4 separate regions of the Homo sapiens genome follow, and all the other regions are reported to be linked to region 1. Evidence: microRNA targets listed by miRTarBase, many of them from high-throughput screens and not tested one by one. Region 1 holds a microRNA gene; each other region holds the end of a gene's coding sequence.
The links. The annotated mature microRNA hsa-miR-505-5p reads GGGAGCCAGGAAGUAUUGAUGU and lies in region 1 at 3,668-3,689, shown strand. An mRNA with a match to its seed (bases 2 to 7 or 8) in the 3' UTR can be bound and repressed. Matches are read on the target gene's strand: a 7mer-m8 pairs with bases 2 to 8, a 7mer-A1 pairs with bases 2 to 7 and ends in A, and an 8mer does both.

Region 2: miRTarBase lists CSPP1 as a target of hsa-miR-505-5p. The part of its 3' UTR that is shown has no 7-base or 8-base seed match.
Region 3: miRTarBase lists ZNF280D as a target of hsa-miR-505-5p. The part of its 3' UTR that is shown has no 7-base or 8-base seed match.
Region 4: the mRNA of C5orf22 is a reported target of hsa-miR-505-5p. The part of its 3' UTR that is shown has no 7-base or 8-base seed match.

The regions. Positions count from the first base shown.
Region 1 is chrX:139,919,817-139,927,884 of GRCh38, reverse strand. It overlaps MIR505 (microRNA 505), which reads left to right and starts at 3,654; the gene lies at 3,654-3,737. The region is part of intron 1 of ATP11C (ATPase phospholipid transporting 11C (ATP11C blood group)); the gene reads left to right.
Region 2 is chr8:67,191,348-67,199,415 of GRCh38, forward strand. It overlaps CSPP1 (centrosome and spindle pole associated protein 1), which reads left to right. Exons shown (of 31, transcript NM_001382391.1): 30 at 2,117-2,255; 31 at 4,035-5,267. The coding sequence ends at 4,246. ARFGEF1 (ARF guanine nucleotide exchange factor 1) reads right to left here. Exons shown (of 39, transcript NM_006421.5): 39 at 6,311-7,751. The coding sequence ends at 7,587. Among named protein-coding and RNA genes, the nearest start is that of CSPP1, 130 kb to the left of the region's middle.
Region 3 is chr15:56,624,060-56,631,759 of GRCh38, reverse strand. ZNF280D (zinc finger protein 280D) reads left to right here. Exons shown (of 22, transcript NM_017661.4): 22 at 1-1,584. The coding sequence ends at 262. Among named protein-coding and RNA genes, the nearest start is that of ZNF280D, 110 kb to the left of the region's middle.
Region 4 is chr5:31,552,295-31,556,557 of GRCh38, forward strand. C5orf22 (chromosome 5 open reading frame 22) reads left to right here. Exons shown (of 9, transcript NM_018356.3): 9 at 479-2,759. The coding sequence ends at 608. Among named protein-coding and RNA genes, the nearest start is that of C5orf22, 22 kb to the left of the region's middle.

The sequences.
Region 1 (8,068 bases):
CCCGCTCTTATGCAGAATGAGCAAAGAATGAGTTCTTGTTAGTTGGGGTATACCGTATACATTACTAGTATTCTAAGAATTAGAATAAATACATCTAATGCCGAAAGCTATACTGACCATAGTATAATCTTTTTTTTTTTCCTTTTTTTTGAGATTTATTATGGGAATTGGATCATGCAGTTACAGAGGCTGAGAAGTCCCAGGATCTGCCATCTGCATGAGCCCGGCCACAAAATATCCCCTTCTTTTATTTATTTTTATTTTTATTGTTATTTTTTTTGAGACAGAGTCTTACTCTTGTCATCCAGGCTGGAGTGCAATGGCACGATCTTGGCTCACTGCAACCTCCGCCTCACGAGTTCAAGCGATTCTCCTGCCTCAGCCCCCCTAGTAGCTGGGATTACAGGCGCCTGCCACCACGCCTGGCTAATTTTTTGTATTTTTTAGTAGAAACGGGGTTTCACCATGTTGGCCAGGCTAGTCTCGAGCTCTTGACCTCAGGCGATTTCCCTACCTCGGCCTCCCAAAGTGCTGGAATTACAGGCAAGAGCCAGCATGCCTGGCCTCTTTCTTAGATGATTAAGGCATTGTATGGTTTTGCAGAGCAATTATCATTCAGCAAATATTCACTGAGCACCTACTATGTGCTGGGCACTGCAGTCAATCCTGGGGTCGTAGATGAGCAAGACAGACAAGGTTCCTGTCTTCCTGAGCTGTAATTATCATTACATACACAACTATAGATATAGAGGGCATGGTAACTGCATTGCATTGAATACATTTGTGACATACCATGAAATTTGATCTTTGTGAATAAGTTACTATTACATACTTGTCATTTTTCTTTCTACTAAAAATAGATTGTACAATATCAGTTATTTTCTGGTTGTTTGGATGTCAGTTAAAAAGGAGTTTCTTGCATTTGTCTCCTTTCATCTGACCTACGCATGGCAAACTGCTCTTTTGCAAATAGATGCTAGGCTGACCCCACGCAAGGTGGGAAACTTATTTAGAAATGAACCACTGTAACTTGAAATAAATCTTTACACAAGTGAAAGCAGGTTTTGTCTTCTTTTTTCCTGATCTACCTTTTAGTGACTAAGCAACATAAAACTCTGAATGTGTCCTGAATACTTTCTGTAAGTGTTTACTGTTTGTTCCTTTTGTTTATGCTTATTGCTAATAATTCAGCCATTTAGTGAGTAATATTGAGTGCCTATATACCAGGTAGTTTCCAGTGTTCCTAATTAACTTTTAGCTGAATTGAGATTTGGGCAGGTGAAGCTGGCCATTTTTATATTGATGCAACTGTTCAAAAGAGCTTGTTTTTTCAAAAAGCTGCCAGTTTACCACCTGCTGAGCAGTGGGTTCTAGGAGGTAAAGGATGGCCAGTGGCCCCTGAAAGAACCATAACTAACCTTGCTGTGTCTGCATGATGTGCAAAGAACTAGCCCACTGAGTGAAATCAAATACTGGTTTGTTGAGTGATGGAAAAAATCAAGGCTCATTGCTTGTCTAACATGGTTATTCAGTTCTCTCAAAGAGGGTGAATGCATGGGATATAAAAAAAAAATACTATTTTTTTCTTCAAGGTGGTGGAATTTCCTGTACATCTGTAGTGCTTTATACAGATGAACCTTTTACATCTGGAACCCTCGAGACTGGGGGAGTTTTTCTGGTTAGGTGGAGGGAGGTTCTGGGCTTCCACAAATGAATTAGGTGCTGGCTCTCGAGTTTATTTCCTTTCACTTAACATTTACCTTCTTGGCCTGGTATAAGGGTAGATTAGCGGTGATCGTAAAACAAAACATACTGGCACAACTGCAGCATATGTTAACACTGCTGCAGCTTAATGATGAATGAGTGCTCAGCACTGCAGATATGGGCACAGGATGCCCTATGCCCACACATTGGCAGACAGCCCCTCAATTATTGCAGTGTATGGACGGATTACTGGGTCGGCTGACTTCTTGATAATAGAAGATGTGATTTATAAATGATAATGGACCGTGGATTTCCAGATTTAGAAGGTTAACCTGTATTTGTGAAGTAGAAATCATTGATTTCTTGTGCCATATGTATTTAATGGAATATGGGAGGATTGGTGATGTTGATGATATTGCTGTTCAAGCAGATATCATCATTTGTTTTTTAGACGTCTCTATTATATGTTGTCATAAAGTATTAATGTGGCAATGTTTTCCTAGTCCCTTTCTCTTTACCAAGGTATTCTTGGAAAAATCAGAAGTGTTCTTGAAAATGATCTTGCAGTTAGCACAGCATCAGGTAAACAGTAGATGTTCAATTAATACTTGTTTAATTGTTTTGAGCTGAATTGGTAACACAGTCTGAGTCAGTAATAACAGATGAAGAATGATCAGTTTAGGAAGCAGCCACCAAGAAGCTTATGCATTTCAGACTGGGCTACAAAATTAGCCAGGAGTGGTAGCACAGGCCTGTAATCCCAGCTACTTGAGAGGCTGAGGCGGGAGAATCACTTGAACCTGGGAGGCAGAGGTTGCACTGAGCCGAGATCGTGCCATTGCACTCCAGCCTGGGCAACAAGAGCAAAACTCCATCTCAAATAATAATAATCCTGTATGCTTACTATAAATACAGATTCCTGGGCCTTGAACTTACTGAATCCAAGTCTTGGGTGACAGACTCCAAGAAACTGTTTTTAACAAGCATTCCAAGTGGTTCTTAGGTTCACTAAAATTTGAGAACAGCAATATATAATATAGTAAACACGGAAATATTTATTTTCTGGGCACACTCTCTGTTCACCTTTTTGAACTTCAGTTTCTTCATCGATAGAATGGGAATAATAATACCTATTTCACAAGACTGTTGAAAAAAACGTTTGGTAGACTATTCAACACTATACCAATTGTGACAGAGGTCCTCAAAACCGGCCTAGGTTTGTTGATTCACTGGCAGAACTCAGTACATAGAAACGCTTGCGGATGTGATTTATTATAGCAAAAGGATACAGAGCAAAGTCAGTAACGGGAAAAGGCTCATTGGGGCCAAGTCTGGAGGAAACCATGTGCAAGCTTCCAGTCCTCTTTCACTGAAATCACACAGGTCATGCTTAATTCCTCTAGCAAATGAGTTTTGACAACTTGTGTGAAATGTCTACTAGGGAAGCTTATTAGAGATTCAGTACCCAGGGTTTTTAGTGGGAGCTGGTCACACAGGCACCCTCCACCTGGTACACAGCAAAATTCCAGACCCCAAGGAGGAAAGCAGGTATTCAGTGTAAACCCTATTGTTTACACAGCTTAAGCAGAGTGAGCCACTCTTATCAGGGTGATGGAAACCCTCCCAAAATCCAAGTCCCCAGACACCAGCCAAGGACCAACCTTGCAAACAGGCCTTACTAAGAATAGCAGTGTCAGGCCTGCTATGTTAACTCTTTCCATCACGCAAATATTGTGAAACACTGGTATTTTTTCAGTGAAAGGAAATGACTTGTCCAAGATCATTAAGCTAATCAGCAGTACAGCTGAGACAGACTCCCAGCAATCACATCTTTTCTTTGCTGCCCATAGCCATGCTTCTAGATTATGGGTCATTCCTTTTCATACTGTCATTGAAAGCACTTACTGTTTGTCACTTGAAGCAGAAGAGCAGCCTGCCGGTGGTAAATTGATGCACCCAGTGGGGGAGCCAGGAAGTATTGATGTTTCTGCCAGTTTAGCGTCAACACTTGCTGGTTTCCTCTCTGGAGCATCGCCAAGTTCGTGGATTTTCATTTTTCCTGACTTTTGGACTTTTGTTACTGCTCCCATTCATTTGCTCATAGTCCTAATACTCATTTGCATCATCACTTCATCCCATTCTATACCTTTTGGGTAACACAATTTCCAAATGGTGGGAATACTGCAGTATTTTGTCAAAGAAGACTATATAGGAAAAAAAAAATTCTGAGCAATGAATTTTATGGCAATATTTACAAATATTGGTTTATATCCTGGATTGTCTTTTGAGTTTTATAGTCATGGAAAACCCTAGGGATATCTCTGGTTATTTGGAGTTTCAGCCATTTTTACTGTTATAAAGGAAAATTAACAAATTTGTTATGATTGGAGCAAGGAATAAGGAAATCATACTGGATGGTGCAGTAATCCCACATATCGACAGGGAGTAGAAGCCAGGAGGGAATTGCCACAAGTAAGTAACAGCTGGGTAGAGCAGATTATGTAAGCTACACCTGTTGTGTAAGCAGTGGGGACGTTCTTTAAGCTTCACAATTAATGTATTTTGCAGTAATAAGGATTAAGGGATCTATAGTATAGTGTACAATTTATTCTGGCTTCTTTTCTGAAAACATTCATGTGAATCACAGCTTTCTTGGAACACTCATCCCCTATTTGGTGCTGTAGAGGTGTGTAAGGTACAGCCCTGCTCACCAGTAGCCTGCAGTTTGGTAGAAGAGAGAGAAGACCAGCACACAGGACCATCCTCCACACAAGGCCAGTAGGTCACCAGAGCCATCCTTTTGAAGGACATACACAGTAAGTGCAGTAGGCATTCAGAAGGAGGCACTGGCTCTCTGGCTTCATTTCTTGGGGAGAGCTTTATGGAGGAAGTAGCCTGTCAACTGGGCCTCTGGGGACCCAAAGGGCTGAAGGTTCTGAGATTTTAGGGATGGGCAGTCTCATTACAGGAGGAGGCAATTACCTGAGCAATGGTGCAGGGTCATTGTTGTACTTAAAGCATGGGAACCAGTCAATTTAGAGAACATACATGCCAACCCCAAATGAGTTTGAGCTGTTATAAAAAAAAGTATAACAGGTGGGGCTCAGTGGCTCACGCCTGTAATCCCAGCACTTTGGGAGGCTGAGGCAGGTGGATCATTTGAGGTCAGGAGTTCAAAACCAGGCTGGCCAACATGGTGAAACCCCATCTCTACTAAAAACAAAAATTAGCCAGGTGTGATGGAGAGCACCTGTAATCCCAGCTACTCGGGAGGCTGAGGCTGGAGAACTGCTTGAGCCAGGGAGGTGGAGGTTGCAGTGAGCAGAGATGGCACCACTGCACTCCAGCCTGAGTAATAGAGCGAGACTCTGCCTCAAAAAAACAAAACAAAACAAATAAAAAGTATAACATAGATTCAGTGGCTTATGCACAACAGAAATTTATTTCTCACAATCCTGGAACTTGGAAGTCCAAGATCAGGATGCCAGCATGGTTGGGTACTGGTGAGGGGGCTTCACGTCGCAGACTGGTGACTTATTGTATCTTCACATGGCAGAAAAAGAGTGAAATGAGCTCCCTAGGGCACTAATCCCATTTATGAGGGCTCCACCTTCATGGCCTGATCACCTGTCAGATGCCTCACCTCCTAGTACTGTCACCTTGGAAGTTAGGATTTCCACATAAGAATTTTAGGGGAACACAAACATCCTGTCCATGACACAGCAGAAACACCAAAACCTCGATCTTCAATGCCTTACGTTTGCTGTAGTAATTTTGATTTTAAAAAAGGAGATGCTAAAAACAGGTGGCTTTAGGTCTCCACAACAATAGCTATAGGAATCTTCCCATACATAGATGCTCTTTTCTGAAACCTATGACTCCAGTAAATTTATGTCATTTAAAAAAAATGCATATATATATATATATATATATATATATATATATATATATATATATTTAGAGAAGGAGAGAGAGAGAGAGACAGTCTTGCTCTGTTGCCCAGGCTGGAGTGCAGTGGCACAATCTCGGCTCACTGCAACCTCTGCCTCCTGGGTTCAAGTGATTCTCCTGCCTCAGCCTCCTGAGTAGCTGAGACTACAGGCGTGTGCCACCACACCTGGCTAATTTTTGTATTTTTAGGAGAGACAGGGTTTCACCATGTTGGCCAGGCTGGTCTTGAACTCCTGACCTCAAGTGATCCACCTGACTCAGCCTCCCAAAGTGCTGGGATTACTGGCGTGAGCTGCCATGCCCGGCCTTATTTGGTGCAGAGACAGTAAGGCAGAGACCAGGATGAAATATATATTTGGGGTAATATATCATGACACTACTTCATATATTATTATAGGACTGCTTACTTAGTTACCCTGCTTAAATTATGGGTACACATTTCTGGTAACTTTCACTACACATGGGAGACAGGATGGCAGTTCATTTTCTTGAGTACTAGTGGTCATTTATTTAAAAAGCTGGAGATCAGGCCTTTTTTCAGGAGCACATTCCTTACCAACACATTTATAGTTCACTGCTATTAGATAAGAAAGCTTTTGATAGACTTTCAGATCTGACTGCATCATTCGGACTTACCAGAACATGAATTGCATCTCATTCCCTCTGTATTAGTCTATTTTCATACTGCTTTAAAGAACTGCCTGAGATTGGGTAATTTATAAAGGAAAGAGGTTTAATGGACTCACAGTTCCACATGGCTGGGGAGGCCTCAGGAAACTTCCAATCATGGCAGAAGGCAATTAGGACGCAAGACACCCTCACAAGGTGGCAGGAAGGAGAAGTGCCGAGTGAAGGGGGGAAGAGGCCCTTATGAAACCGTCAGATCTCGTGAGACTCACTCACTATCACGAGAACATGGGGAAAACCACCCCCATGATTCAGTTGCCTCCACCTGGTCTCTCCCTTGACAGGTGGGTATTATGGGGATTATAATTCAAGATGAGATTTGGGTGGGGACACATATCACCCTCATAACCAGTTCATCACGACACCATGCTTAGTCAGTGCCACTTTTCTTTATCATCATGACTGCCACCCTCGTCTAAGTCATTAGCATCTCTCCACTTTCATATTTGTTCCTCCTCCAGTTTTCCCGTTCAGTAAATGGCACCATCCCCCTCCTAGTAGCTCAAGCTAAAAACCTAGCAGTCATACTTAATACTAACCTTTCCCTTCATCACATTTGTCAGAGAATCCAGTAGGTTCTATTTCTGAAAATGCTGTCACATCCATCCACCTTTCTTCATGCCCACACCTACCACCATTCAAGTTTAAGCTACTGCTGTCATTTACCTGGACCTTTGCAATTGATTATTTTATTATCCACCTTTGCCCTCTCCTATCTGTCTTCCACACAGCTCCAGGGGGATCTTTTACAGACGCACACCAGGAGCACTTCATTGACTTTCGACTGATTTCTGGTTAAATACTTTGCTGGTATTGCTCTCTCTCTTTCACTTTTTTTCATTCACTTTTAAAAACTGAGATAATTCACCTAACATAAAATTCACCACTTTAAAGTATACACTTAAGTGGATTTAAATTTCCTATGCTGTGTAACTATCACAGCTATCTAATTCCAGCACATTTCCACTACCTCAAAAAGAAACCCCATCCGTTAGCTCTTAGTCCCAGTCCTCTATCCTTCAGCCCTTGGCAACCACCCATCTACTTTCTTATCTCTGGATTGCCAGTGGAATCATACAATATGTGTTCCTTTGTGACTGAATTCTTTGGTGTAGCATAGTAATATTTTCAAGATTTGTTCATGTTGTAGCATGTATCAGTATCAGTACTTAATTCTTTTTTTTTTTTTTTTGAGGTGGAGTCTGTCACCCAGGCTGGAGTGCAGTGGTATGATCTCGGCTCACTGCAACCTGTGCCTCCTGGGTTCAAGCGATTCTCATGCCTCAGCCTCCAAAGTAGCTTGGACTACAGGCACGCACCACCACACTCGACTAATTTTTGTATTTTTAGTAGAGACGGGGTTTTGCTATGTTGGCTAGGCTGGTCTTGAACTGACCTCAGGTCATCCGCCCGGCTCGGCCTCCCAAAGTGCTGGGATTATAGGCGTGAGCCACCGCGCCCGGACTCATTCCTTTTGAAGGCAGAGAATACTCCGTTTTATGGAGAGAGCACATTTTATTTATCTGTTCATCAGCTGATGGACATTTGGGTTGTTCGCACTTTTTGACTCTTGTGAAAAATGTTTCTTCGAACATTTTTGTCCTTTCTTTTTTATTTTTTTATTGAGACAGAGTCTCACTCTGTTGCCCAGGCTGGAGTGCAGTGGCGCCATCATGGCACATTGCAGCCTCCGCCTCCCAGGTTCAAGCAATTCTCCTGCCTCAGC
Region 2 (8,068 bases), not on the chromosome of region 1:
GCATTTAGCACTGAGCCAAGTATGCAGAGACCTCACCAAGTAACAGATGTTGCTATTAGCGTTATTATATGTACAGCATTACCAGGTGAAAATAGCTTTGCTTTTTGCCTTAGGCAACCACCAGTCTACTTTGGTTTCTATAGATGTGCCTTTTCTGGACATTTCGTATAAATGAGATCATACACTGTATGATTATTTGTGACTGGATTTGTCTTTCTTTTGAAGGTCATTCATGTTGTAGCATGTGCCAGTACTGAAGCCTCTTTAGTGTTGAATAATTTTCCACTGTATTAGTATCCCACATTTTGTTTATCCATTTAACAATAGATATTTGGGTTGTTTTCACTTTTTAGCTAGTATGGATACTATTAATGTTCATGTAGAAGTTTCTGATGTTTTTATTACTCTCGAATATATATACCTAGAAGGAAATTGTTGGGTTATATGGACACTTTGTATTTAGCATTTTGAGGAAGTACCAGACTTTTCCAAAGTGGCTGTACCATTTTACCTTCCCATCATCCACTGAGGGTTGTAATTTCTGTATATCCTGGCCATCACTTAGTGTCTTTTGATTTTAGCCATCTATTGAGTGTAAAGTGGTGTCATGGTGGTTTTGAGTTGCATTTCTGTAATGATATTGAACATCTTTTCATGGTTTATTAGCCAGTTGTATATTTTCTTAGGAGATATGTCTATTCAAATCCTTTGCTGATTTGTTTTTTTTTTTGTTTTTTTTTTTTGATACAGAGTCCTGCTCTGTCACCTAGGCTGGATTGCAGTGGCGTGATCTCAGTGCACTGCACCCTCTGCCCCAGTGGGGTTCAAGGGATTCTCCTGCCTCAGCCTCCCAAGTAGCTGGGATTACAGGTGCATGCCAACACGCCTGGCTAAGTTTTGTATTTTTAGTAGAGTTGGGGTTTCGCCATGTTGGCCAGGCTGGTCTTGAACTCCTAACCTCGGGTGATCCACCTGCCTCGGCCTCCCAGAGTGCTAGGATTACAGGCATGAGCCACCGCGCCCAGCCCTTTGTCCATTTTCAAATTGAATTGTCTTTTTATTGAGTTGTAAGAGTTCTTTTACATTCTCACTACAAGTCTAGTTATCAATGTGTGATTTTCAGATCTTTTTTCCCATTCTGTATCTTTTTAACTTTCTTGATGGTGTTCTTTGAAGCACAGAAGTTTTTAATTTTGATGAGGTCCAACTCATCACTCTTTCTTGGGCTTTTGGTGTCTTAATTAAGAAACCATTGCCAACCACAAGATCATGAAGATTTACTTGTTTTCTTTCAGTTTGTTCTTAATTGTAGGTCCATGATACACTTTAATTTTTGCACAGGGTGTGAGGTGCAGGGGTCCAAGTCCATTCTTTTGCATGTGGCCATCCAGTTGTTCTAGCAGCATTTGTTTAAAGACTGTTCTCCCACTGCATTTTGTTAACTCCGTCCATAAACGTAAGGATTTATTTCTATATTCTTCTTAATCTTCCATTGATCTACATGTCTTTTCTTATGTCAGTACCACACTGTCTTGATTATAGCTGGACTAAGCCCCTGCTGCTTCAGTTTTTTCCTTTTGTGTCCTATAATTCTCAAGCTTTATCCTGACTGGCAGCATTTCTGTCATCACAAATGTTACTCCTTATCCTTGAGAGTCATCTGAGCTTGCATGGATAAGCATAGGAGCCATAATATACGTGCTCTATATTTTCATGTTTTATTTTGTTCATCACAGTGTACATTTGAGGGCAAGAGGATGTTTTGATTTGCTGGTTTTTTTCTTTTTTTTTGAGATAGAGTCTCTGTCTCCCAGGCTGGAGTCCAGTGGCACAATCTCAGCTCACTGCAGCCTCCACCTCCTGCCTCAGCCACCCAAGTAGCCGGGGACTACAGGCGCCTGCCACCATGCCCAGCTAATTTGTATTTTTAGTAGAGATGGGGTTTCACCATGTTTGCCAGGCTGGTCTTGAACTCCTGACTTCAGGTGATCTGCCCACCTCGGCTTCCCAAAGTGCTGGGATCACAGGTGATAGGCACCATGCCTGGCCCTGATTCACTGATTTGTGAACATATTTTGTGTTAATGACTTTCTGAAGTTCTGTTTTCTAACTACAGGATAGCAGTCGTCCTAATGTAGCACCAGATGGTCTCTCTCTAAAATCTATATCCAGTGTAAATGTTGATGAGCTTAGAGTGAGAAATGAGGAACGAATGCGAAGACTGAATGAATTTCACAATAAACCTATTAATACAGGTAAATGACCAAGTGTAATGGCCTATAGTAGAATCCTGTATGAACTTTTAAACTTTCTTACTCAAGGCTTTCACTAACGTCTGAGGGATAGATGGAATGAGTTTGAAGACCTTTGAGTTGTATGGCCCAAGACATAGTAACTATTGAGCAAAACCAGACCTCAGGATGCAGTTTGCATCAGATTTTCTCTATCAGAGAGGGTGCCCATTTTAGAGTGGAGTCTAAACAGGTAAAATAGTTTTTGCTTATTAAACATATCCAGGCTTTGCTTTCAGCAAAGAAAATGCTATATGATAATAGTAATCACTTTACTAAAGTAAAACATTATTAGAAATTAGCCTAAAGACTTTGAGTTCTTTAACACTTATGCTGTATATTTGCAGTACTACAAAGAAAATTTTTACCTTCTTCTTTGGCTTTCCACACCATGGACAAAGTCTCAGAAGTCAAATAAAGCTAGTCGTCTCCTCATTATGAGTGCATTTTTGTGACTTGCAGGTTAAAGCTAGTCATAGAGCACAAGGCAGGATGGTTCCTTAGACACCTAACAAGCTACCCTGCCAGCCCTACACCACCCTTTTCTATACCAGTGCTATTAGTCACCGGGATAATGGGACACTTTCATATTGGTAATAATAATAGTTTTAGCAAATTACTGGAGTGGTCTATTTGGGAAATACTCTTTAGTCTGTTAATCTACATTACAATAATCTGTTAAGATTTTTTTAGATCCTACCTTTAATACTGTGTTAATTTAAAACTGTACTCATATACTATCTATCTAGCAGTCAAGGTGTGGTGTGTTCTAATGGTGGTAATTCCACACCAAACACAAAGCAGACATGGTTAATTGATGGGACAGTAGGAAAGGATGTCTTTCCAGCTATAAGGCATTTTCTTTTAGACCCAACAAACTGAATTAATATTTAACAGGAATATATTTGAGGGAAGATAGCATTTTAAGAATCTTTTTCAGAAGGTTTTTAATGTCTACACTGTTTTTTAACATTGTCCTTTCAAACAGGAGCTTTTTGTTATTATGTGGATTGACTGCACATACCAATCCTTCACAGACCAGGAGAATTAAAAAAAAAAAAAAGAATATGATATCACAGGGTAGGAAGACAGATTTTCCTATTATTATACCTAATAATAAATAAAAGTAAAATACAGATAGAAGTTGCGTACAATCAATCAGATTCAATTAAAGAATGAAGCAAGAGCTACCTCTTCATTGACTGGACACGGCCTTGTTAGATTAGGTGTTTTAAGAATGGAAGTAATCTCATGCCAACTAGTGTTTTCCCAAAATAACTTAATAATTTCCTTATAGCAGTGTTGTAGGTTGAAGAGTATTCCCCAAACCTTGCTTTAAAAAAAATAAAAAGAAAAAAGAAAGAAATTTTATGTGTAGCCATTAGGCTTCTCCTGAGGTAACAGTTACAAAATAAGACTACCTACATTCCTCCTGTTGACTTTGTTTTATGGAGAGGTGCCTTTGATATGCTTAGAATCCCTCTGGTTGCTAGTGCCATGGAGTCAGCTTACTCAGTTGATCATTTTTTGTTTTACAAAATTGGCCTTTGTGGGCCCACTCTCCTCCCTCTAAAATAGGGTGGGGTGGGGTGAGTCTAACCAAAACAAACAAACAGTAGAGTTCAGGATATGAGACTGTGGGGAAATGCTGAGTTGTAATGAGTTGGACTACAAGAGACCTGCGCTTATGTCTCCTGCCTGCCACCTGTGTTACCTGAGCCACGTGTCCCTTGCCTCCTGTAGATGATGAGAGTTCACTGGTTGACCCTGATGACATCATGAAACACATAGGGGATGACGGATCAAACTCTGTAGCAACTGAGCCCTGGCTCCGCCCTGGCACTTCAGAAACGCTGAAACGTTTCATGGCAGAGCAGCTGAACCAGGAGCAGCAGCAGATTCCTGGAAAACCAGGCACTTTCACTTGGCAGGGCCTGTCGACTGCACATGGTTAAAATAAACCTGTACTGGACCCAGTAGTGCCTTTTAAGGTGAAAGGAATGGTAAATCTGTACCTTTAATATGTCCTACTTTTGGCCCCTACCTGAAAGTTACTTTTTTTCCATCATCTGTATATAAAATTATTTTTATCATGATGTATATTATGTACATAAATAAAAGGCCATGATTATTGATTTATATAATAGAATTGTATAGATTATTTTTGCACAGTTTTGTCATAAATTAGGGTGGTAATGAACTGGATTGAACTACTATATGTGCATTATATTGAATTCTGCTTGTCATTAAGATAAGGTGAATAAGTGTCTTAAACGTCCTGTAAAACCGGACTCCCCTTTGTTACATGCACATTTTCCATTGTTACCTCGATGCAAAAGAATTCATTTAGTAGGTACATCTATTGTAGCTGTGATTATTCCAGTTTCTGTGTGATGCAATCAAATGTCCTATTAATTAATTATTATTTCATGTCATTTGTAGCTACTGATACAGCAGAAATGAAGGGAACTGTAATTACTTGTATTTTTGTAAGCCATACGTTAAATGTTTGTTACATCATCTTTCTGCTTCTATTTTTATGCCAATGAAGGCATTTGTCTTGTTACTAATTACATGATGTAACTACTTCTTGATATAAATAAATTTTTATTTTAATTACTAAAATCTTTTTAACTACTATGGAGCTTTCTAGACTAGTTTTCTAGAGGTTGAATAGAGGTGGGGACACCCGGGAGTCAAGGACAGAGAGACTGGAGTCTTCTTCTTCCACCATGGAACCTTGGATAAGTGAGTCCATGTGAGTTTTCTAATCACTCAGTAAGTGATACTTCTAAAAAAGGAAAGAGTCATTCAAATAATTGTGACATTCTGACTCAGATTAGAATCTCAGAACCATGACAGCTGAGAACATCCCCAGGCACTGCTTCTCTCTCTAATAATACTTCCTCTGATGTAATTAACGGTTGGTAGACAATATCAGACAAATTTGCCACAATTAAATTACTGATATTTTGAGTTTTGGCTACTTGTAAATTTTTATTTGATTTTCTAATCGGACCATTGTTTGTTTGCTTTACTCGTAAAAATTTGTTCTGTTGTCATCTGAAAGTAAGAAGAAAGCCTCTGACTCTTCTAGGGGAAGAGTCCTGATACTACAACATTAAAATAATCAACTGCCAGGTTGTGTGGAGCACTTACCCTCACACGGCAAGGTCACAGTGGCTCGCAGTTCTAGCATCCAGCTGGGCTTGAACACAGCTAGAGCTGTCTTGGGTGTAACAAATACAGCACACTTACTTACAAATGCATTGTTCAGTAACTGTTCATTATCTAAGAGAGGTGTGAAAGCAAAGACTGAATACTTTTCCTCTTTAACACAACCATGTTAGATGATATTGACACGTTCCCTTTTTGTTTAATGCCATGTACCACACAACTTCAACTGACTCCTCGAACACACAATATTGCAAACTGTGCTGAAGAGAACTTTAGCTCTTTTCAGCATTCAAGTAGTGTAGCCTGATGCTAGGTTATTAATATGCAAAAAATATTAAAAGATTTTTGGGCTGGATATGGTGGCTCATGCCTATAATCCCAGCACTTTGTGAGGCTGAGTTGGGAGGATCACTTCAGGTCCAAGAGTTTGAGACCAGCCTGGGCAATATAGTGAGATCCCATCTCTAAAAAAAAAAAATTTTTTTTTAATTAGGCAAGTGTAGTGGTGTGTGCCTACAGTCCTCACTACTGGGGAGGGTGGAGTGTGAGAATCGTGAGCCCAGTTTGAGGCTACAGTGAGCTGTGCTCATACCACTGCACTCCAGCCTGGACAACAGAGTGAGATCCGGTCTCTAAAAGATAAATAAAAATTTTAAAAATTGCCTTAAAAATAAGTATCCTATGGTAAGTACAGTGTAAGGAGGATCTAATGCTAGAAGCTGGAAAGAAAATACCAGAACCAAACAATATTGAATTTGTAGTTCTGGCTGAAAATGTCTTTTCCATAGTTGTTCAGCCTTAATAGACCAGAATCAATGAAACATGGGGGTGGGTTATACAGGTTTTGATTGCACTGATGAAATAATTCAAAAACTTTATTGACCTATAACCTGATTAGAATATGCCAGATGGGAATCAATATTGTACAGAAAGTTGTACAGAATTTTTTACATAGAAAACTTTACATCTGTACCATATACATTTTGTCCATCTGAAAAAATTTTCTACATCCACTGTTAATACGGAATGCTTGACAATCTTGTCTTTTAACCATCAGAGCACAATTCACAGTATGAATACATTTCCAGTAAATCTAACCTCCGCAAACCATGCCAGATTTGTTATTTTAATATATTCAACGTTAAATTCTGTACATAGAGTAAAATCTACATCAAGCCCCACCACCCAAAAGAAAAGAAAATGACAGCAATCTGGATTCATTTTGCAGTGATTCAAGTTTTGGTCCATAAAGGATCATTCTATTTTAATGGCTCATCTTTAAAAGTCCTAAGAGAAATATGTGACAGGTAGTTACTGTCAGTAGGGATATTTTCTACCTTTTTTTCCCTATTGTTGAAGTGTCGGCCACAACAGCTTCTGGGCATGTTACAGCCTCAAAATCACCACCTACCAAAAAGGGCAAAACTAAAAATCCCTATAAAATAAAAAAGAAAGTTCCACCCAAATGTTTAGTGCATTTGACAAAATATTATGGGTATTTAGCAAATGAATAAGAAAATAAAGAAAACAGTGCAGGAAGAACTATATAATGTTTTAAGATTTTTATATTACAGACCTGCATCTCTGTACATTTTTCACAGGATGATTACCAGTATCTCAGATAGCCTGAGTGTGCAAAAATCTTCAGAATAAGAATACCATAGTTGCTAAATATCTTTTACCATGAACAATAATTTCTTCTTCTCTCCCCACTCCCCAATTATAAACATTTTATCCTTCAAAATACAGCTCTCCTGAGTTGTACTTCTTGTAGAAGTTCAATCTTTACATCTATAGTTCTTTGGGTAAGTTTCACTTCCACACCTGCCAAAAACGTGGGGCTTTTCCTGCCGTGGAAGACAGGGAAGGACCCGTGAGCATGAGCTGACACTGTTTAAACAGGCTTTCTGCTCAACATGAGGCCAATATAACACACAAAATCCACCAGCACTAAAAGGGACTGGAGTGTTGCAAGTTTGAGTAAGACTTCTAAGCATCTTTACCAGTAACTCAGACACTGCAATCCAGAGAAATCATTTTTCAGGTAGGAAACCTCAGCTCCAGCGTCCTTTTAAAGAGCAGAGGGATGTAAATGCCAACAAAAATATTAAGTTCCCATCATTGCTTGTTTATTCCAAGTTCCTGTTCAGGTGGTTGTGATATCTGAAAAACTACTCCGATTCGCAGAAAAAATCTTCTAAGAACAGCACGAAGTTCAGGAATCAAGTCAAATTGCATAATTTCACATAAGAGAGGGTAGTAGAATGATGCATGAGCTTTAAACTGCAGGGAAAATGAATTTCTCCATTAGTAGTGATTGCAAACTGCAGAGCCTTAAACTGCCTAGAGTCAAACTACTCTGGGGCTCCATCACAGGAGCCAGGAAAGCAGGGTCCACAGCAGGCAGTGACTCTGGTTTGTGGAACTGAGAGACAGAAGTGTTAGAAAAACTCACTTCATACAAACACTATTCACTTACATATCCTTATTTTGAAAAACATTTGTCTGTATATCTTTGACAAACTTTTAGTAATTTAGCACTGTTTTTCCTGGGTAATAAGCAGCAGGCAAGTGAGTACAAACTAGAGTTGAGATTTTAT
Region 3 (7,700 bases), not on the chromosome of region 1:
TGATCAGTTTTTGAGAAAAAGACATGAACCTGAATCTGTTAGTTCTGATGTTAGCGAGCAAGGCAGTATTCATTTGGAACCTCTGACTCCATCCGAGGTACTTGAGTATGAAGCCACAGAGATTCTTCAGAAAGGTAGTGGTGATCCTTCAGCCAAGACTGATGAAGTAGTGTCTGATCAAACAGATGACATTCCTGGAGGAAATAACCCTAGCACAACAGAGGCAACAGTAGACCTGGAAGACGAAAAAGAAAGAAGTTGAAATTAGTCATTTTAAGTTTCAGTGTACCAACGATAAGGGCATTTGGAACAGTGCTATCAGGTGAGCTCAGTGGTGCTGTTGTAGGTTCAGAAATGGAAATATGTAAGGGAGGTCACACATACACTTTACCTGTATGTTCAACCTATGTTATCAAACAAATCAATTCACCAATAATAGCATGATTAGTAGGGATTCCCAAAAAGTTTTTAAAAACACGAACAGGATTTTAATGATAATTAAATTTGCAGTGGAAAGGTCTCATTTAATGGTTTTCAAGGAAATGGGATTTGGTTGCTGACATGAATTGATGATATTAGTAATATTTATAAAGCCTTTCAAACTTCCATCAATCCTAAGCTAAAAATCTTTATTACCTGTATATCCTTTTCAGTTAACTGAGAGGAAGGGATTTGGAAACCATGTACTTTTGGGGAGTAATTGATTAAAAACAATGGCTGATTGGCATTGTTAATGAAGGCTTTATTTGTGAGGATGATGCTGGTAAATGGAGCATGCTTAGAGTACTAAATTGATCTAATGAGAATTTGGATGAACATAAACTTAATTTTGGATTTAATATAACATTCCAGTCAGACGCATGTAAACAGAATATTTGAATCTTTGTACCTCCATACAAGTGTTAGCCTGCCAGGCTGTAAGCTTACCTTAATTAAACTTTCAGTGAAAGTGGAATTATTAAGATATAAATTTATATTTGTGCTTTTTGTCAGTGTGTAAGCTGTGTAGAAATTCTTTGATGTATTAGTTGTATTAATGTAAAGTAGAAACCCATTGTTGAAACTCCTGTAGCTATTATGCTTTTAATATTGTTTTAATGATCTTCCTTAGAAATAGGCCCATAAAAATGGTCTGGAAGCCAAACCAAAGTATGGTATAATGTAGATATTGTAAAGCAGTAAACTGAAAACATGTCCTGGCATGTATTCAGCCATGTTTAAGTGACTTTTCTGTAATTGTAAAATAAAAACTTCAAATGGGACCTAAAACAGTGATGTAAAAGAACTGGTTTTGGAAATTTAGCCTAATTTATCTATAAGATGGCTGCTAAATTGATTTTTCAGTTCTTTTTATCATCTAGAATATAATAGATATAGAAATGAATAATATGAAGAACAGTAGTTTGCTTTGAAATACTAATAAACTTTTATTTAAAATGCTTCATTTTTACTTCTTAAAATGTGCTTTGGATTCTTAAATTTTGTTTCACTGAATGTTCAATGTTTTAAATGGCGATTAAAATACTCTGCTGTATATAGTAGTTTTTGAGTAAATATTTGCAATAAAAATCTGCCCCCGAATAATTCTATTTTTCCAATCACTGCTTGATTCAGATTACCTTTGGTGCCTTTAGAAATTATATACTTGTTCAAGAAATTTAATATCAGTGTTAGTGGTGAGGATTCCATTCTACATTCTTTAACTGCTGATACATTATTTTAAATTAGGACTTAAAGTACAGGGGACAATATTGCTAATATTTATGAGAATAGATTTGCTTTATAAATTCTTTTACTTCAAGAGAAATAGAATTTAATATTATACTTTTCTATCTGCCCAACAATTTAAAGAGGCTAAATAGGCAAAATATATTATGAATTATTTGGAGTATTTTGGGGAGGAGAGCTAATATTTTTATCTTTCCTGCTCCCAAGAAAAGATAGGGAGAGAGGGAGCCATTAGCTCTCATCCTTCACCTTGTTAAAATGTAATTCTGTATCATGGAAGATTTTTGGAATAATATAAACCTTAGAAGAGCAGGGTTAGGAAAAACGCCTGTCTCTATAAGGACCACTTGTGAGTCTCATTCAGTCTGTTGCCACATTATCACATTATGACACCATAATCCCTTTGGAGCTTTGCTACATCAGCCCCCATATACCTTTTGAGTAGTGGTATTCAAAGTAGCAGGTCAATGAACTGTTTGTACCTATATACTATGAGAAAAGGAACCTATACTGGACTGTAAGTGCTTCATTGAGAAAGTCTGGCAATGAAAAAAAAAATAGCTGAATTAAGAATTGTATTTGGTACCATAGCTGGTTTACATTCTCTTTCAATCTCCTTATCTCCAATCAGGAACAACCAATCCAGGTATGCAAACCAAACCTTTGGTAGCAGTGCTTTAGAGCAGCGGTTAGGAAACCTTCTCTACAGGGCCAGACAGTAAATAATTGTGGGCCATGTGCTACAATTACCCAACTCTGCCTTGTATCATGAAAGCCACTGTAGATGATATGTAAATTATGAACCTATTTGTGTTCCAGTAAAACTTTATTTACAAAAATAGGATGTTGGCTGGATTTGGCCCATGGACTATAGTTTGCCTACTCCTGCTTTGTAGTGCTTAAACTCCTTTGATAAGAATATGAAAGCCAGTGATGCACTCTAGTGACTGCCTAAGAACTATCAAGACACCTTAGTATGTTATAGTTCCCTGTTAAAACAACGGGATTATGGTGGATTATAAGTGCAGTTTAATAACATCAAGAATCATTATATTTATTTTGTAGGATGCACTGCTAATTTATATTGAAAATCTGAATACCATATTTATTTGTTATTTCTTCCCCTTTCCATCTCTTCAGTGTTTTAAGGAAGAAACTATAAATTTTTTTTACCCCATGAATTTTTAAAGAACTATTCTAAACATTTGTTGAAAGAAACTAACAAGAGGTGAGTCACTTTATTTTGGTTAGAAGTAAAAAGATAAGGAAACCAAATATCTGGGCAATTATTTGGCTAGGGTTACAAAGCCTAGATTTGAACCCAGTTTGATCTGATTCTTAAGTTATTGTTTTTCCATTACATCTAGTTACTAGCATTTATATTAAACATTTCCTTTTAAAATATTTCTTTTTTTGCAAATAATCCTCCTATGGATGATACTAATTGTAATTATAACATCTTCAAGAAATGAGATATGTTGGGTGAAATTACTTTTATAGTTAGCTCTAGCTAACTTTTAATTGCTTGTTAAATGCATATGGAATCAAAGACTTCTTAACCTGAAGAAAGGGGATTTTTCCTCAAGGAGTTGTGAATCATTTTTATTAATAGGCAAGATAGTATATCATGTAAAGATACACTTTATAAAATAATTATTGAAGTTTTAATATCGTTACATTTTTGTAGGCTTCTGTTAGGTCATTGTTTGACTTCATGGTTGACAAGACTACTTTTTATACTATAATGAAATAGGAAGTTTGTATGCACTAGAAGAGGATTGCAAGTGTTTTATTTTTACTAGACTATTACAACAGTAAGACTTGTTTACTCAGCTAAGAAGTGAAACAGTTGATTTACCTATTTCTAAACTTAAGAGGAAAAACAATTATCTTTTAAGTACAGTTATGCGCCACATAATGACGTACCCCATGTATGATGGTGGTCCAATAAGACTATAATGAAGCTGAAAAATTACTCTTGCCTGGTGACATCTTGATAATGCTGACCCCATGTAGGCCTAGGCTAATGTGTGTGTGTCTTAGTTTTTTTAAAAAAAGTTTAAGAAGTAAAAAAAATTTTGTTTAATAGTAAAAAAAGGTTATAGAATAGGATATAAAGAAGGTACTTTCGTGCAGCTGTAAAATGTTTGTGTTGTTAGCGAAACGTTACTACAAAAGAGTCAAGTAAAAGGCCGGGCATAGTGGCTCACGCTTGTGGTCCTAGCACTTTGGGAGGCCGAGATGGGCAGATCGCTTAAGCCCAGGAGTTTGAGACCAGCCAGGAAAATGTGGTGAAACTGCGTCTCTGCAAAAAATAATAAAAAAAAATTAGTTAGGCATGGTAGCACTTGCCTGTGGTCCCAGCTATCCAGGAGGCTGAGGTGGGAGGATCACTTGAGCCTGGGAGTTCAAGGCTGCAGTGAGCCATGATCAAGCCACTGTACTCCAGCCTGAAGGACAGAGCAAGACCCTGTGTCAGGAGTCAAGTAAAAAAATTTTAAATATATAAAGTAAAAAAGTTATTGTATGCTAGGGTTTATTATTGAAGAAAAACATTTTTAAATTTAGCCCAAGTGTACAGTAATGTCCTAGGCCTTCACAGTCACCATTCACTGACTCATCCAGAGCAACTTCCAGACCTGAAAGCTCCATTGATAGTAAGTACTCATAGGTGTACAATTTTTATCTTTATACTATGTTTTTATTGTGCATTTTCTATGTTTAGATAAACACCATCGTGTTATACTTGCTTACAGTATTTAGTACAGTAACATGCTGCCCAGGTTCGCAACCTAGGAGCAACAGACTATGACATATAGTCTAGGTGTATAGTAGGCAATACCATCTAGGTTTGTGTAAGACCACTCCATGATGTTCACACAACGCTGAAATCGCCTAACAATGCACTTCTCAGAATAGATCCCTGTCATTAAGCGATGCATAACTATTTTTTGACTGATGCACATCTGCAGATCAACGTAGACAAAATGAATAGATTTTTGAAAGCCATGACAATATTTAATTTTCAACTTGAAAGCTTCAAATTAAAAGATACACTCAGATCATTTGTGAGGAACTAAACACATCTGTAGCAACAACTATAACATCTTTAAGAAATGAGATATGTTGGGTGAAATTACTTTTATAATTAGCTCTTGCTAACTTTTAATTGCTTGTTAAAAGTACCGTAAAATTGCCTTTATTTTTAAAAAATATATTACACATAATTTGGTCTTCATTGATGGCACAGTGTGCCATTATTATGAAGATTATTGGGCCACACTTTAAGGGATGCTGTAGCTGCAGAAGTTAATGGCTTGAAAGATAGTTGATCACAGAAGTTACCTTGGATTTTGGTTTCTGGAAAATGCCCCAGGTACATCTAGGATCATTAGACTTTACCAAAAACAGAATAGAAAAATTGACTGTATTGCTGATTCACTCCAACATCTTTCTTAAAATGACTTTTCTCCCCGAAATATTAAAGTAAAGCATGCTGTTTGTGGAGATTTGGAGAAGTATAAAGTATGCTGTTAAACTTTTTTATTTTTTGAGATTGAGTTTTTGCTCTTGTTGCCCAGACTGGAGTGCAATGGCATGATCTCGGCTCACCGCAACCCCCGCCTCCCAGGTTCAAGCAATTCTCCTGCCTCAGCCTCCTGAGTAGCTGGGATTACAGGCATGTGCCACCATGCCTGGCTAATTTTGTAGTTTTAGTAGAGACTGGGTTTCTCTATGTTGGTCAGGCTGGTCTCAAACTCCCAACCTCAGGTGACCCACCTGCCTCGGCTTCCCAAAGTGCTGGGATTACAGGCATGAGCCACCATGCTGGGCCAGTTTTAAACTTTTAAAATATTTCATCTTTATCTGGTGCCATAAAAACATTTTTTTTTTCTTGAGATGGAGTCTCGCTCTTACTCAGGCTGGGGTGCAGTGGTGCAATCTCAGCTCACTGCAACCTCTGCCCCTCAGGTTCAAGCAATTCTCATGTCTCAGCCTCCCAAGTAGCTGGGATTACAGGTGCCTGCCACCACGCCTGGCTAATTTTTGTATTTTTGGTAGAGACGGGGGTTTTGCCATGTTGGCCAGGCTGGTTTTGAACTCCTGATCTCAAGTGATCCACCTGCCTCGGCCTCCCAAAGTGCTGGGATTACAGGCGTGAGCCACCACGCCCGGCCTCCACTTCCTTAAAAAAATTTTGATTCTCTATATTAGGGGTTAGCAGACTATGACCCACAGTTGACCACCTATTTTTATAAACAAAATATTAGAACAGCCATACCATTTAATTACATATTGTCTCTTGTTACTTTTGCACTACAACAGCACAGTTATATAAGACAGAGACCATGTAGCTCACAAGCCTAAGTTATGTACAATCTGGCCCTTTAAGAAAAAGTTTGCCAGCTTTTACTTTATATTTTCATATAGTCCATATCATACCTTTATAACCATTCTTTAATTTTCATTATTGTAACCATTACAGTGGAACTTAGTTTATAAACTTGGTCCACATTTCTTACTATTTCGTGTTCTAGAATTACAAATTTGCAATTTTTTGAAGATTATTCAGTTTTTTAATCAAAAAATATTATTTTTTTTAAGAGACTCTCTTTGTTGCCCAGGCTAGAGTTCAGTGGCATGATCTCGGCTCACTGCAACTTCTGCCTCCCGGGTTATAGCAATTCTGCCTCAGCCTCCTGAGTAGCTGGGACTACAGGTGCACGCTGCCACACCTTGCTATTTTTTTGTATTTTAGTAGAGACAGGGTTTCACTGTGTTGCCCAGGCTGGTCTCGAACTCCTGAGCTCTGGCAATCCACCCACCTTGGCCTCCCAAAGTGCTAGGATTACAGGCGTGAGCCACCGCACCCGGCCTTTTTTTTTTTTTTTTTTTTTTTGAGACAGAGTTTCACTCTTGTCGTCCAGGCTAGAGTGCAATGGCACGATCTCGGCTCACTGCAACCTCCGCCTCCCAGGTTCAAGCAATTCTCCTGTCTCAGCCTCCTGAGTAGCTGGGATTACAGGTGCCGGCCACCATGCCTGGCTAATTTTTGTATTTTTTAGTAGAGATGGGGTTTCACCATATTGGCCAGACTGGTCCTGAACTCCTGACCTCAGGTAATGCACCCACCTTGGGCTTCCAAAGTGCTGGGATTACAGGCGTGAGCCACCACGCCCAGCCAAAATATCCATTATTATATTAACATACTCTTTATAGAAAAATAGTAAAACAATACTTAAGTATTTGTAGGTAAAAATGGAAAATTCTCTTACCACAATACTAGCGGAAAGCTTCTTGTCCTGGCATAAACTTCTAAGACTTGATGTTTTCATCTAGATTTTTTTTCTTCACCTCTTCAAAGTCAGTTTTATTTATTAATTTTTAAAAACCTAATGTGATTTTCATTCCTACAGTTCACCAAATATTTCTAGTATGTGTGGCCATGTAACTAGTTCCTGGCCAGTGCATTGTGAGTGAAAGTGGCTTCTGGTTTGGAGCATATAATTGTTGATGTGAAACTTTTTAGAATTTTTTTCGTTTGTCGTAGTGCTTTGTCATATTTGAGATGGTGATTGCTCCATCAGGCTGGGTTACTGAGGGACTACTATGAACAGAGCCTCCCTGTTTATTCAGATGGGCACATGAGAGAGAATGAGTATTTTTGTTTTAAGCCTCTATAGTTAGGGAATTTCTGTTTCTGCAACATAACCTGGCCTATCTTGATCAATACAGTCATGAATCGTGGAAGTGGAGTGCTACCATGAAAAAAAAACAAACTTAAACTATTACAGTGGCTTAGGTGACAGATGGTGTGGCTCCATGAGGTGATCCATATTCTGATGTGCGAGATTTGGTAAACTATTGCCTGTAATACTTGGAAGACATACAATATTCTTAATAAACTTGTATCTCTATCAGAAGACTTCGGATAACAGAATGTTAACAGCATGTTTTGATTACTGTATTAG
Region 4 (4,263 bases), not on the chromosome of region 1:
CCTTTATAATTTTGTAGTTAACAAATCATTTTTAGAAATAGGATCCTTTTATCAGTTGGAAAACCTCGACCCTCATCATTTCTAGCCCTAGCACACACATAATAAAAGATGTTCCATCGCTAAGATAATAAGCCCCTGTATTCCCAAGCAACATCTCACTTTCAGGCAAACAATGGTCTAGCAATCAAGCATTAAGGCACACACCGCATGTCACCTTGCACAGGTTAATCTCTTTCAGATTTCTTTAAAGGGATAGTAATTGTGCCTATTTCATAGAGTTGCTGTGAAAATTAAAGAACATAATTTATGTAAGGTGACTAACATGGGGTAAACCTTCACTAGCTTTCAATTGATATTAATCCAAAGTTCAGCACACCTTAATTTCTGTTTTACATTGAAATGAACACATGCAGCTTTTCCTCACAGTATGATTTTATCCTATGTGTATTTTTCTTCTTTCTCTTTCTGTTGGTTCTAGGTCAAGTCTGGATGATTACTGTCCTTCTGACCAAGTTGACACTATTCAAGAAAAGGTCCTCAATATGCTACGTGCCCTCTATGGAAATCTAGACCTCCAAGTGTATGCAGCAGAGTCTCCTCCATCTTGAAACAAACAAAACATTAGGCTCCTGTTGTATCTTGGTTTAGTAACAGGCCCTTAATTAACTTATTTGTACATGAGTCTTCCAGAGAACACTGTTTTATATTAACTTTCAGTTGAAATCTTTCAGATATTTTGAATCTCTGAACAACCATTGTCAGTTGTGAATGATGGTAAATTTTTTGGCATCAAGTCTCATAACCCCAACTGATAGAACTGTTGCTTATCTGTCTTCCTTAAGTATTTTTTAGGGTTTTGTTTTTTTTTTTGTTTGTTTGTTTGTTTGTCTTCACTTTTCCCCCAGGTCTGTTGAGCTGTATGAGATTCATTCATACTTCATTTATTCATTCAACTAATATTTGTTGAACACTTACATGTACCAGACATTATTAAGTGCTGGGTATATGGTAATGAACAGAATAGACAAGGCCCCTGCCCTTTTAGGGGAGACAGATGAGAAGTAAATTACGGGTTATGAGAAATGTTATGAAGGAAAGGACAACAACAGACATGTCTTAGTACTTAGGGTATCATGGCTTTATAGGAAAGTAACATTCTCTATCTTTTTTTTTTTTTTTAATTTTATAAAAATAGAGATGGGGTCTCACCATGTTACCCAGGCTGGTCTCAAACTCCTGGGCACAAGCAATCCACCTGCCTTCGCCTCCCGAAGTGCTGGGATTACAGATGTAAGTCACTACCCCAGCCAGAAACTAACATTCTCAAAAGCTACTACCAAAAAAACCCCACAAATTTGCCAATCCATGAAAGTATCATAGGAAGTCTACCTTTCCAAGGAATTTGGCATTGTGGCCCTGCTCTTGCCAAATGCTCTCCAGCATTGTTGGTATCAAGGTGGTCTGGTTGAGTAAACTTGACCAAACAAAAATTAACTGTTTTTTGCTTTTCTGTTTTTGTTTTGCTGATCAAAAAAGCCCTTCAGGGTCTCTTGTGCATCCAGGAGGTCATTGTAGATATCAATAATATAGTGCCTAAGTGCCACTTTATTGCCAAGTCTAGATTGATACTTTTTTCAGATAAACCAGCTTTTTATGTAAAGAGTAAGGGAAAAAGTTAAATCTTTAATTCTGACCTGCCATAAATACCCAAAGATATAAACTGTCTTCCACCACCCCCCTCATAACTAAGACATCCTTCCTGAGTCACTCTTAATCATGAAACTTGATTTTCTCAATTGGCCAGTCTTCTGATCTTTAGTATCTCTTTAGTTCAGTAATTTTTACCTACCTACTTGATTTATTTTCCTTTAAAAGGTGAAATGACATTTAAAGAAAAACAAACACCCATCATTCCTCAGTCCCAACACAGCAGTTCTTTTCACTCTTGCTTGTAACTTTCAGGCCTTACCCACATGTGTTCCTATAGAGTTGCATGTAGCTAAAATTATAGTGTGCTGCCTAACTTTGTGCTAATAACGAAGGACACACATTATCATTGCCTCACAGTGGATGGCACCTGACCCCATTTTTCCAAGGATTCTATTTTCCAGTGAATTTTTGTCACCGAGTTAATTTCCCAAGTCTGATAGCATGAATGCTTATTTGTGCTGTGAAAAGCAGAGCAGCCTGACTCAGCTTTCCATTTTCATAGGATAATATGTGCCAAAAAAGGTTTATTTTCTTGGTAAAATCAGAATTGTAGAATTGTGCTATTTTTAATTTTTAAAATTTTTGGTTAGAGCTTATAGACATTACTTTTATGATTATTTTGCGTGCTAAATAAGTTAAAGGGTATGTTTTGAACTATAGCACTAATTAATGTGTGTGATCCTAGTATGTTGATAGCTTTGATTTTGTGAGTGGTTTACTAGTCATTTATTATGATTCCCATGAACTCTGATATGATTCATTGTGGTTTTAACTCAGGTTGAATAAAAGCATCCATTTCTTTTATAGGAAGGTTTGTTTAATTCTCATGTTCTGTGATCATCTCTTTGAGAATAAAATTCAGTCCCTAATAGTTGAAAAGAATCAACTTAGTAAATTATGTCTTGCACATTCCAAATAGGAAGGTATTTACTTTATCAAGATGTGTTTCATTTGTGTTCTGAGTACCAGTGAGGGGATACCGTGGTACAGTGTTTTGAATTGTGTACTAATATCATTAAAGCATGGGATTTTAGTGGCTTTTTAAAAAATGTGACTTAAGTGTAAGCGTAGACTTTAACTTAATAAGTTGTGTATTTCCTAGTATCTACGGGGAAAAAATTTAAGTCCAGCCTTTCATAATAACCTTTTGACTGTCAATTTTAGATCTCTTTAGAAACATTTCCTATAGTTGGCCATGCGCGGTGGCTCACGCCTGTAATCCCAGCACTTTGGGAGACCGAGGTGGGCGGATCACGAGGTTAGGAGATCGAGACCATACTGGTTAACACGGTGAAACCCCGTCTCCACCAAAAATACAAAAAAAAAAAAAATTCTCCAGGCGTGTAGGCAAGCACCCGTAGTCCCAGCTACTCCGGAGGCTGAGGCAGGAGAATGGCGGAAGCCCAGGAGGCGGAGCTTGCAGTGAGCCAAGATCGCACCACTGCACTCCAGCCTGGGCGACGGAGACAGACTCTGTCTCCAAAAAAAAAAAAGAAAGAAATATTTCCTATAGGCACGGGTCTTTATGTGTTCTAGCTTCTCAAGGAGCTCTTAGTCAATGTCCTTCACACTTTTTTTTTTTTTTTTTTTTTTTGAGGTAGGGTCTCGCTGTGTTGCCCAGGCTGGAATGCGGTAGTGTGATCTTGGCTCAGTGCAGCTTCAACCTCCTGGGCTCAAGCGATCCTCCTACCTCAGCCTCCCAAGTAGCTGGGACTACAGGTGTGTGCCACCATGCTAGGCTTTTTATTATTATTATTTTGTAGACATGAAGTCTCACTATGTTGCTCAGGCTGGTCCCAAACTCCTGGGCTCAAGCAATCCTCCTGCCTCAGCCTCCCGAAGTGCTGGGATAACAGGCGTGAGCCACCATGCCTGGCCTCCTTCACTCTTTTTATGATAATCTCTCCTAGTCTTGACTTTGTTTTCGCAGCAGTGGCCCTGGCTTGCTGGTAGTAAATTCATCATACTGCCAGTAGTTTATAGTCAGTGGTGTGTTTCTCAGTACAAGATTCTCTCATTCACCATACATCTCAAGAGAGAGCACTTCAGTGAAACTTCAGGAGTTTTTGTTTGACATCTTTCAGAAATGCTTGACATACAGTCTTGCCTTCTCAAAGTATAGTGATACTTTGCTGAGAATCAGCATTTTTTATTGTAATTTTTTTTTTTTTTTTTTGAGACGGAGTCTCACTCTGTCGCCAGGTTGGAGTGAAGTGGTGCAATCTCGGCTCAGTGCAAGCTCCGCCTCCCGGGTTCATGCAATTCTGCCTCAGCCTCCCAAGTAGCTGGGACTACAGGTGCATGCCACCACGCCCGGCTAATTTTTGGATTTTTAGTAGAGACAGGGTTTCACCATGTTGGCCAGGATGGTCTCGATCTCTTGACTTCGTGATCCACCCGCCTCAGCCTCCCAAAGTGCTAGGATTACAGGCGTCAGCCACTGTGCCCGGCCTATTGTAAACATTTAAGATGTACGACATGATGTTTTGATATACATAGTAAAAAGGTTACTATAGTAAATCAACATATCCACTTCTCACATAGTTGCCCTTT